Linked DNA regions of Homo sapiens. The protein of the gene in region 2 interacts with the protein of the main gene of each other region in a pairwise test. Each region holds a gene or a part of one and is shown on either strand. Other genes may lie near its edges. The genes, in order: TYROBP and TREM2.

The links.
Region 1: the proteins of TREM2 (region 2) and TYROBP interact in binary tests that used the Homo sapiens proteins (3 or more experiments, as listed by UniProt).

What each region holds. Positions count from the first base shown.
Region 1 is NC_000019.10:35,905,261-35,909,523, reverse strand, and holds the start of TYROBP (TYRO protein tyrosine kinase-binding protein isoform 1 precursor), read left to right. Parts: upstream 1-1,228; 5' UTR 1,229-1,295; coding exon 1,296-1,356; intron 1,357-1,761; coding exon 1,762-1,794; intron 1,795-1,943; coding exon 1,944-2,078; intron 2,079-2,259; coding exon 2,260-2,306; intron 2,307-4,263. UniProt on the Homo sapiens protein: Adapter protein which non-covalently associates with activating receptors found on the surface of a variety of immune cells to mediate signaling and cell activation following ligand binding by the receptors.
Region 2 is NC_000006.12:41,160,157-41,164,510, reverse strand, and holds the start of TREM2 (triggering receptor expressed on myeloid cells 2 isoform 1 precursor), read left to right. Parts: upstream 1-1,394; 5' UTR 1,395-1,428; coding exon 1,429-1,468; intron 1,469-2,897; coding exon 2,898-3,248; intron 3,249-4,354.

The DNA.
Region 1 (4,263 bases), on a different chromosome or scaffold from region 2:
GTGTGGATGGGGGAGGGGGGCTTCCTGCAGCTGTCTCATCCTCCAGCACCCTAACCTCAGGTTCCTCCTTCCCCAGCCCCAGGCTCCAGCTGGGGGCTAGAAGTCCCCGTCTCCTTGGGGTGGCCTCCCTTGGGCCTTGCTCCCAGCCACTTCCTCATTCAGCAGGAGAGCCAGCCACCTGCCTCTCCCCAAGCCGCCAGCCGTGCCTCTGTGTCTGTGCCACTGCCTTACTCTCACCTTTCTCAGCTTTGCCGCTGTTTTCTCCTTCCCCATCTTTCATCTTTGTTTTTCCCCCTGACTCTTCCCTAGTCAAAAACCTGATTTTGGGTCTTGGGTTCCATTTCCACCTTGATTTGCTGTGCAGCCTTAGGCAAGCGTCTCTACCTCTCTGAACAATGGGGATGATAAGAGCATGTGCCCTAGAAGGGCATTGCGGGGACTGAATGATTTAACGCTTGGGACAGAGTGCCTGCATGTCATTAGTGCCCACATGCTGCTGGCTCTTTTAATATCCTTTAAACAGCACAAGTTTCTGATGATTAAATAATCATCATCATAGCTGATGCTTTTAAAAAGCTGACAAGGGTCAGACCCTGGTCTAGGAACTTTAATTCATTTAATCCCCACAACTCTAAAAAGTAGGTCCCATTTTACTCCCAATTTTACAGATGAAGAAACTGAGGTTGGAGCTGGGTGCGGTGGCTCACACTTGCAATCCTAGCACTTCGGGAGGCCAAGGTGGGTGGATCACCTGAGGTCAGGAGTTTGAGACCAGCTGGCCAACATGGTGAAACCCTGTCTCTACTAAAAAAAAAAGAAAAAAAAATACAAAAAATTAGCCGGGCATGGTGGCAGGCGCCTATAATCCCAGCTACTTGGGAGGCTGAGGCAGGAGAATCACTTGAACCCGGGAGGCAGAGGTTGCAGTGAGCCGAGACCGTGCCATTGCACTCAAGGTTGACCAGCCAGGAAGAGGCAGAGCTGGTTTCAATCAGCCAGAGGAAGGTCATGACACTGACCCTCCTGTTAAAACGATGTCTGACCCCTGACTGGGGACGGAGGTGAAGTTTGTGCTTCACGTACCCTTTGCCCTTCACGTCTAGTTGCTGGGGGCCTGTGGCATGGCCCCTGGGTGTCTGGGCCTGATTCTTTCTTGGGTTTTGTTTCTGTCTCTCCTCCCCTGTCTCCTCCTCCCTTCTGCCACCACCCGCCTCAGACTTCCTCCTTCACTTGCCTGGACGCTGCGCCACATCCCACCGGCCCTTACACTGTGGTGTCCAGCAGCATCCGGCTTCATGGGGGGACTTGAACCCTGCAGCAGGCTCCTGCTCCTGCCTCTCCTGCTGGCTGTAAGTGGTGAGTTAGGGGCTTCCGTGGCTGCCTCCCGGGTCCCTGGGCTCAGCTTGGGGCAGGGCAGGGAGTGGGGTGGAACGAGAGAACCAAAAGTGGGTGTTGGGATGGGAGCAGGTCCCCAACCTCCCAAAGCCTGTGGGTTTCTCCCAGAGCCCAAGCCCCCAAGTTTTGTCGTCCGCTACAAGCAGGGGAGAAGAGACATCTAAGTGTGTTGCCACAGGACAAGTTGTGCAGAAGTAACGCACATAGTCCGGTGGCCCAGACGCCAGCCCCCTGAGTCCCGCCAGACACGCTCTCCCCCTTGCTAACCTCTTGGCTGTCAGGATCCACCTTCCCTGGCTTCTAAACTTGCCTCCCCCACCCCCGTCATAACTCTGTGCCTCAGTTTACCTTCTTTTTCCTCCTCAGGTCTCCGTCCTGTCCAGGCCCAGGCCCAGAGCGGTAGGCCTAGACCCAGCAGTCCCTCTCTCTACCTCCCAGAGACCTCCCTGTCTCCGTCTCTCCCACACCCTTTCCAAACCTCCCTGCCGCTGACCCCCCTCCCCACAGTTCCCAGCACACACTGACCTCCCCTGACCCCTGTGCTGCAGATTGCAGTTGCTCTACGGTGAGCCCGGGCGTGCTGGCAGGGATCGTGATGGGAGACCTGGTGCTGACAGTGCTCATTGCCCTGGCCGTGTACTTCCTGGGCCGGCTGGTCCCTCGGGGGCGAGGGGCTGCGGAGGGTGAGTGGGGCTAGCAGGGGACATCCTGAGGACTTGCCTAGATGGGGGTGGGGGGCTGGGTAAACTCCCAGATCTCAAACATCCAAAGGGATGGTAATGGAGGTGCTGATTTGGAATGACAAAACACCCTCAACTCACCACTCTGCCTGTCTCTGCACCCCACAACACCCCTCACCTCCAGCAGCGACCCGGAAACAGCGTATCACTGAGACCGAGTCGCCTTATCAGGTGAGAAAACCAGACTGTCCTCCTCACATTTCACTCCTGCCAGGGATATCTGCCCCAGATACTCCTTCATGCCATCAGAGGGACCTCAAAGCCACTCTGCCTAAAGCACCCCCAAACCTTGAAGGCACATGGGACATCTGTCCAAAACTGGGCCGAATGATCAACCACAAGCTTATGGTCAGCTTAAAATGTGTGAAGAGGGGCTGGGCACGGTGACTCAAACCTGTAATCCCAGCACTTTGGGAGACAGAGGCGGGTGGATCACTTGAGGTCAGGAGTTCGAGACCAACATGGTGAAACCCTGTCTCTACTAAAAATACAAAATTAGCTGGGCGTGGTAACGCATGCCTGTAATCCCAGCTACTTGGGAGGCTGAGGCAGGAGAATCCTTTGACCCAGGAGGCGGAGGTTGCAGTGAGCCAAGATCACGCAATTGCACTCCAGCCTGGGCAACAAGAGGAAAACTCTGTCAAAAAAAAAAAAGCGTGAAGAGTTAAAAAGAAAAAAAAAAGGGTGGCTTTGCCTTTGTAAGTGTAAACACAGGCCTTGCCAGAAGTCAGGCCAGGAATTTTCTGGAAGAAACCCAGCCCTAGGACGACTGATTTCTGGGAGACGCTCTCAGTAGGGCAGAGAATGTCATTCAGCCCTACCTTGGTAACTCTAAAGAGAGGAGTCCTAGAATCTCTTTTTTGGGTTTGAGGACCCTTCATCCCTTTGAGAAACTAAGAAAATCTAGACTCCCAGAAAAATCTACACAAAAAATACAAAATTGTGCATATAATCTGAGAGCAGTGTAAATGTTCTTTATAATTAAAAAAAATTTTTTTTTGGCCAGGCATGGTGGCACACACCTGTAATCCCAGCACTTTGGGAGGCCAAGGTGGGTGGATCACGAGGTCAGGAGTTCAAGACCAGCCAGGCCAGGATGGTGAAACCCCATCTCTACTAAAAATACAAAAATTAGCTGGGCATGGTGTCATGCGCCTGTAATTCCAGCTTCTCAGGAGGCTGAGGCAAGAGAATCGCTTGAACCCAGGGGGCGGAGGTTGCAGTGAGCCTGGGCGACAGAGTGAGACTCCATCTCAAAAAAAAAAAAAAGACAGGGGTCTCACTATGTTGCCCCAGCTGGTCTCAAACTCCCAGTCTCAAGTGATCCTCCCGCCTCAGCCTCCGAAAATCTTGGGATTACAGGCTCAAGCAACCATGCTGGTTGAGTATTCTTGAAGCTCTTTTTTCTTTCTCTACTTTAATTTTTTTTTTTTTTTGAGATGGAGTCTCATTCTGTCACCCAGGCTGGAGTGCAATGGTGTGGTCTCAGCTCACTGCAACCTCCACCTCCCAGGTTCAAGCGATTCTCTTGCCTGAGCCTCCCGAGTAGCTGGAACTACAGGTGCATGCCACCACACCCGGCTAATTTTTGTATTTTTAGTAGAGATGGGGTTTCACTATGTTGGCCAGGCTGGTCTCAATCTCCTGACCTCGTGATCCGCCCACCTTTCCCTCCCAAAGTGCTGGGATTAGAGGTGTGAGCCACCGCGCCCGGCCTTAATTTTTTTTTTTTTTTTAAAGTAGAGATAGGTTCTCACTATGTTGCCCAGGCTGGTCTCAAACTCCTGGGCTCAAGAGATCCTGTTACCTCGGTCTCCCAAAGTGCTGGGATTATAGGCATGAGTCACCATGCCTGGCTGAAGCTCTTTTTAAAAACTATAGAGTATACAAGAGAATCTAGTCATCTATCCCCCTCTCTGTCAATGTTCCTTTTTAACCCTTTAGGGGGTCATGAGATTCTCTAAGACCTCTCCCCTGAAGAATGCACGCCCAGACTAGTCATCATATATGATTTTAGGGTTTCTGTCTGAGGCCTGCCCCTGGGGGCCACATAGATCCTCCCCCTACCCCAAGTGTGAACACTGCTGTGTGAAGTCTGATATATTGTCTGCAACCAGCTTTGCCTATT
Region 2 (4,354 bases):
TATATGTAAATTATGGGCCAATAAACCTGACTTCTAGAAAAAGACCCTAGAAGAGTACCTACAGAGTGATCTTCAGGCAGCCTCAGACTTCAGCCCCCAGGCCCTTGGGGCAAGGCCGGGCAGTTGGCCCTTTGAGTGGAGGCCTGTCTTCTCCTCACTATGAATTCCCCATCTCCAAGCACATTCCCTGTCCGTAAGTTAGATGCACAGTAAATATGAGTAAATAAATGAATAAAAGAACAAATAAGTGAGTGTTTGCAGGAAACTAAAGTAGACCCTGATAATCTACAGGCTCCTGCAGGCTTCTCCAGCCTCTTCTGCCACTCCCAGCACAACTCCATTTCCCACTCCTAGAATTGACTCAAGCCTCCTCCATCCAATCCCCGACTCACTGGGCCATTTCACACTTTTGTGCCTTTGCACACGTGGGTCCCTGTGCTTGGATCACCATGGGAACCTGTACGTGTAGAAAAACACACCCCTACCCCCAGAACTCTGAGAAATATCCTGTCCTGTCCTGTAGGATAGGATGATCAGGAGTTCAAGCATGTGTGTGCACAAAATAAACACCAGTGTGAGCATGTGTGCACAGGAGACACCCAACAGTTCCAAGAAGGCTAAACTTGGGCAGAAAATTCCAGGTGGGAGAGAAAATTTTCTGTCTTATGGACAGCCCATTTCCCTTTTCCCTTCTAACTAGGATAATGGTAATAGTTAGTATTTGTTGAATGCTGTGTGTCAGGCCCTACTGGAAAGCACTTTACCTGTAGGAACCCATATGGTGCTCCTGATAACCCTTTGCACTATCATTATTCCCACTGTATAGATCAGGGAACAGACACAGGTAGGTTTTGGATGTGTGGTTACACACCCAGAAAGTCAGGAAGTCTGGCTCCAGAGCTGTGTACTTAACTGCTGCCACACTACAGGAATGACAGCCCTGGGGGGATGAACTAAGAGGTGCTGGATGAGGGTCCTGGCCTCTAAAGGCACAGCTGTTCTCCAACTCTTGCAAGGCTGAAACCAGAAGATGGCGGGCATTGCAGCTGGTGGAGGGTCTGAATACAGCTGTGAGGATAGTGATCCCTGGGCTAGGCTCTGCAAGGAAACTGAGCAGTGCAGGGCCTTACCAGCCCCAACCATCTGGGGGCCACCCTGGCTGGCACCAGCAGGAGGGTGGGCTGGCTTCTCAGAGGTCTGGGAGACTCAGCCTCCTTCTGCCAGGGCTGCAGTGGCCGACTCCTCCTCCCCTCTGTCCCCACCCTGCACCGCCTCCAGACCCCAGTCCTGACTATTGCTTAATCCCCAGGAGCCCAGTTCCTGTGGGCAGCGCCTGACATGCCTGATCCTCTCTTTTCTGCAGTTCAAGGGAAAGACGAGATCTTGCACAAGGCACTCTGCTTCTGCCCTTGGCTGGGGAAGGGTGGCATGGAGCCTCTCCGGCTGCTCATCTTACTCTTTGTCACAGGTAGGATCCCCTCCGTGCCCTGTGATGCCTTCTCTCCCTCACTTTGAGCATGTGGTTGGGGCGCGGGTGGTGGGCCCTGGGGTGAATTATGAAGGCGGTGGCAGTCCTCGCATGCCTGAGTGCCCTGTTCTGCACTCCTCTCCTCCCCACCCTGCCCATATTCTTCACACCCTCCTTCCCTCCCCAGTATCAAAACCTACCCTCAGACTCTTTCTGCATGTGGACATGTAAGGGGCTGGTGGACTCTGGTTGCATTGGAAGGGAAGGAGTGCTAACAGTGGCATCCCAGGCACTAGCTGGCAGTTGGGGGAAGCTTTGGGGGGCACTGGCACTGGTAATAGCCTCTGAAATTATAAGCCACTAATTATGAGCCCCTACAGTTATAAAGGAGGAAAGAACCTGAGGATGTTCATCTGCATCTTTGGGGCACTCTCTCCCCTGCTCTGAAGGTCCCCTTGTCCTCAGCTCTTGATGGGAGGTGAGGAGCGTAGAGATTTCCGTTGCTGAGTTGAGGGGAATTGACACACCAAATTTTTGTACACAATTGCTTCTTCCCGCTGAGGAAAGCGCACCTTTTGCTCCCCCAGAGCACTGGACAAACCTGGGCAAGAGGAGAGACGGTGCCAAATGGAGTCTTGTTCCTGCAGCTTCTTAGATGGTGGTCAGGGGGAAGGCGGGGTTCTGAGGCATGGATGGGAGGTGGTCAGATGGGAGAGGGCCACGGCCCATCTGGTCTCTCTAGTTCCAAAAGGCAAGCCACCAACTTCCCAATCCTATCTTTCAAGCCTCTGTCACAGTAATGGTTGAAGATGGCAGGCAAGGGAGGACCAAGAGAGAAGTCAAAGCAGGGGGCTCTGGGGGCTGCCCCAGCAACAGGCTGGTGCTCTAAGCCCATCTCCCCCGCCCTAAGGAGGGTTCCCAAAATAGCAGCCTCATGTCTCCCCCAAAATATCTCCGAGACGGGTCCTTCCTGAAAGGGGAACAAAGCCACAGAAATAGGGAAGCTGGAAGTTAAAGGTCAGGAAAGTCGGTACCAATGTGGGCGGCTGCAGAGCAAGCAAGAGTGGCGGGGCAGGGAGAGCCAGCCCCAGGCCGAGAGGAGAGGTCCCAGTCCCAAATGATGGCAAAGAGATGTGCAGAACAGAACTGGAGGGGGTTTTAAGACCAAGTGCCTCCAGAATAGACCCAGAGAAGGTCAGTTACTTCTCCAAGGAGGCCCAGCAAGAGCAACAGTGAGAAAACCAAACCCAGGTCCCAGGTTTCCTGGTTCCCAATTTCCCACAAACACATGCTGTGCCATCCGCTCCCAACTTGTATAAGAACCTAAGCTCCTTCAGGGCAGGATTTTTGTCTGTTTAGGTCACTGCACAGAGCAAGTGTTCAAAGCGTATTTGGTAAACAAAGGAGTGAATGAATGTCTCCTCCCCAGAGCTGTCCGGAGCCCACAACACCACAGTGTTCCAGGGCGTGGCGGGCCAGTCCCTGCAGGTGTCTTGCCCCTATGACTCCATGAAGCACTGGGGGAGGCGCAAGGCCTGGTGCCGCCAGCTGGGAGAGAAGGGCCCATGCCAGCGTGTGGTCAGCACGCACAACTTGTGGCTGCTGTCCTTCCTGAGGAGGTGGAATGGGAGCACAGCCATCACAGACGATACCCTGGGTGGCACTCTCACCATTACGCTGCGGAATCTACAACCCCATGATGCGGGTCTCTACCAGTGCCAGAGCCTCCATGGCAGTGAGGCTGACACCCTCAGGAAGGTCCTGGTGGAGGTGCTGGCAGGTGAGTGGGCAGTGGCTGCCTCTCTGGCCTGCCCCTGTTCCAGGCCTCATGTTTTGGGCGTCTGTGTGCAGAACCACCCACTGGGCTCTCAGGGATCCTGGGAAAACCCATCGTATGGTCTCATCTCCCTACTCAGGGCTACCAAGGATAGTTGTGCAGGTTGCTCACTATACAAGGGGGCCAAAATCCAGCCCGGACTCCTTTTGCCAGACTGTGTTCCCTGGTGCAGAGCTGCATCACCTGCAAGAAGGGCACCTTTCTCTACTTTGCATTAAGGCACTCTGTGAACTAGCCTGGCCTTGGCCCTCCTTGCCCAAACAGCTTTATCCATCTCCATCCAGTTAGCATGTGAACATGATAGGAGGTCCTTAAGGAGGAGGAGATTAATTTATTCCCTCACCAACCAACCAATGGCCCTATCAACGTAAGTGAAGCACCAACCTGGTGCAGAAAATCACCCCTAGAAAGGAACACTGCTTGTGCTGGGCAATGTGCTTCACTTCTCTGGGCCTCCATTCTCTCATCTGTAAATGGAGAGGGTGGTGTCTGTCCTGCTGACCCCATAGGGTTCCTGTGAGTTTTTATTTGGCGGGGGGCGTTGGGGGCAGGGTGTGACATGTGCTCCAAGCCTCCTGCTACTGAACTGTCTTGGGATCGTCATTCCAGGTGTGAGTAGGTGGGCCAGGGTGTCTCCTTTCCACCCCCGAGCTCTGCGCAGGGACCACCCTCCAGGAAGGCCTTCTGCTTGAGTCTGCAGAACACAACTGTGTCCCCAAAGGAGAACAAATCTGGGGCTACAAAGGCCTTTTCTGACTCTCCTCCTTTCCAACCCCTTCTCCCAGTATGGCTCTTTACCATGGAAATGAGGTCAGGAGTAGTATTTGCCTGACTTGGGGAGGCCAGGGGAGACTGCCAGTCATAGACACAAACCCCACCTCCACCACTTTCCTAAGGATGGCCGGTGGCAGTGAACTCCCTTAGCCACCTCCCAAGAGGGAGACAGAAAAATAAAAGTAGCCCATAGCTTGTGTAGACAGCTTGACAGTTTAGATAGGATTTTCAAGTACATCCACGATTGTATTTGCTCTTCTTAGCCCCTGTGCGGA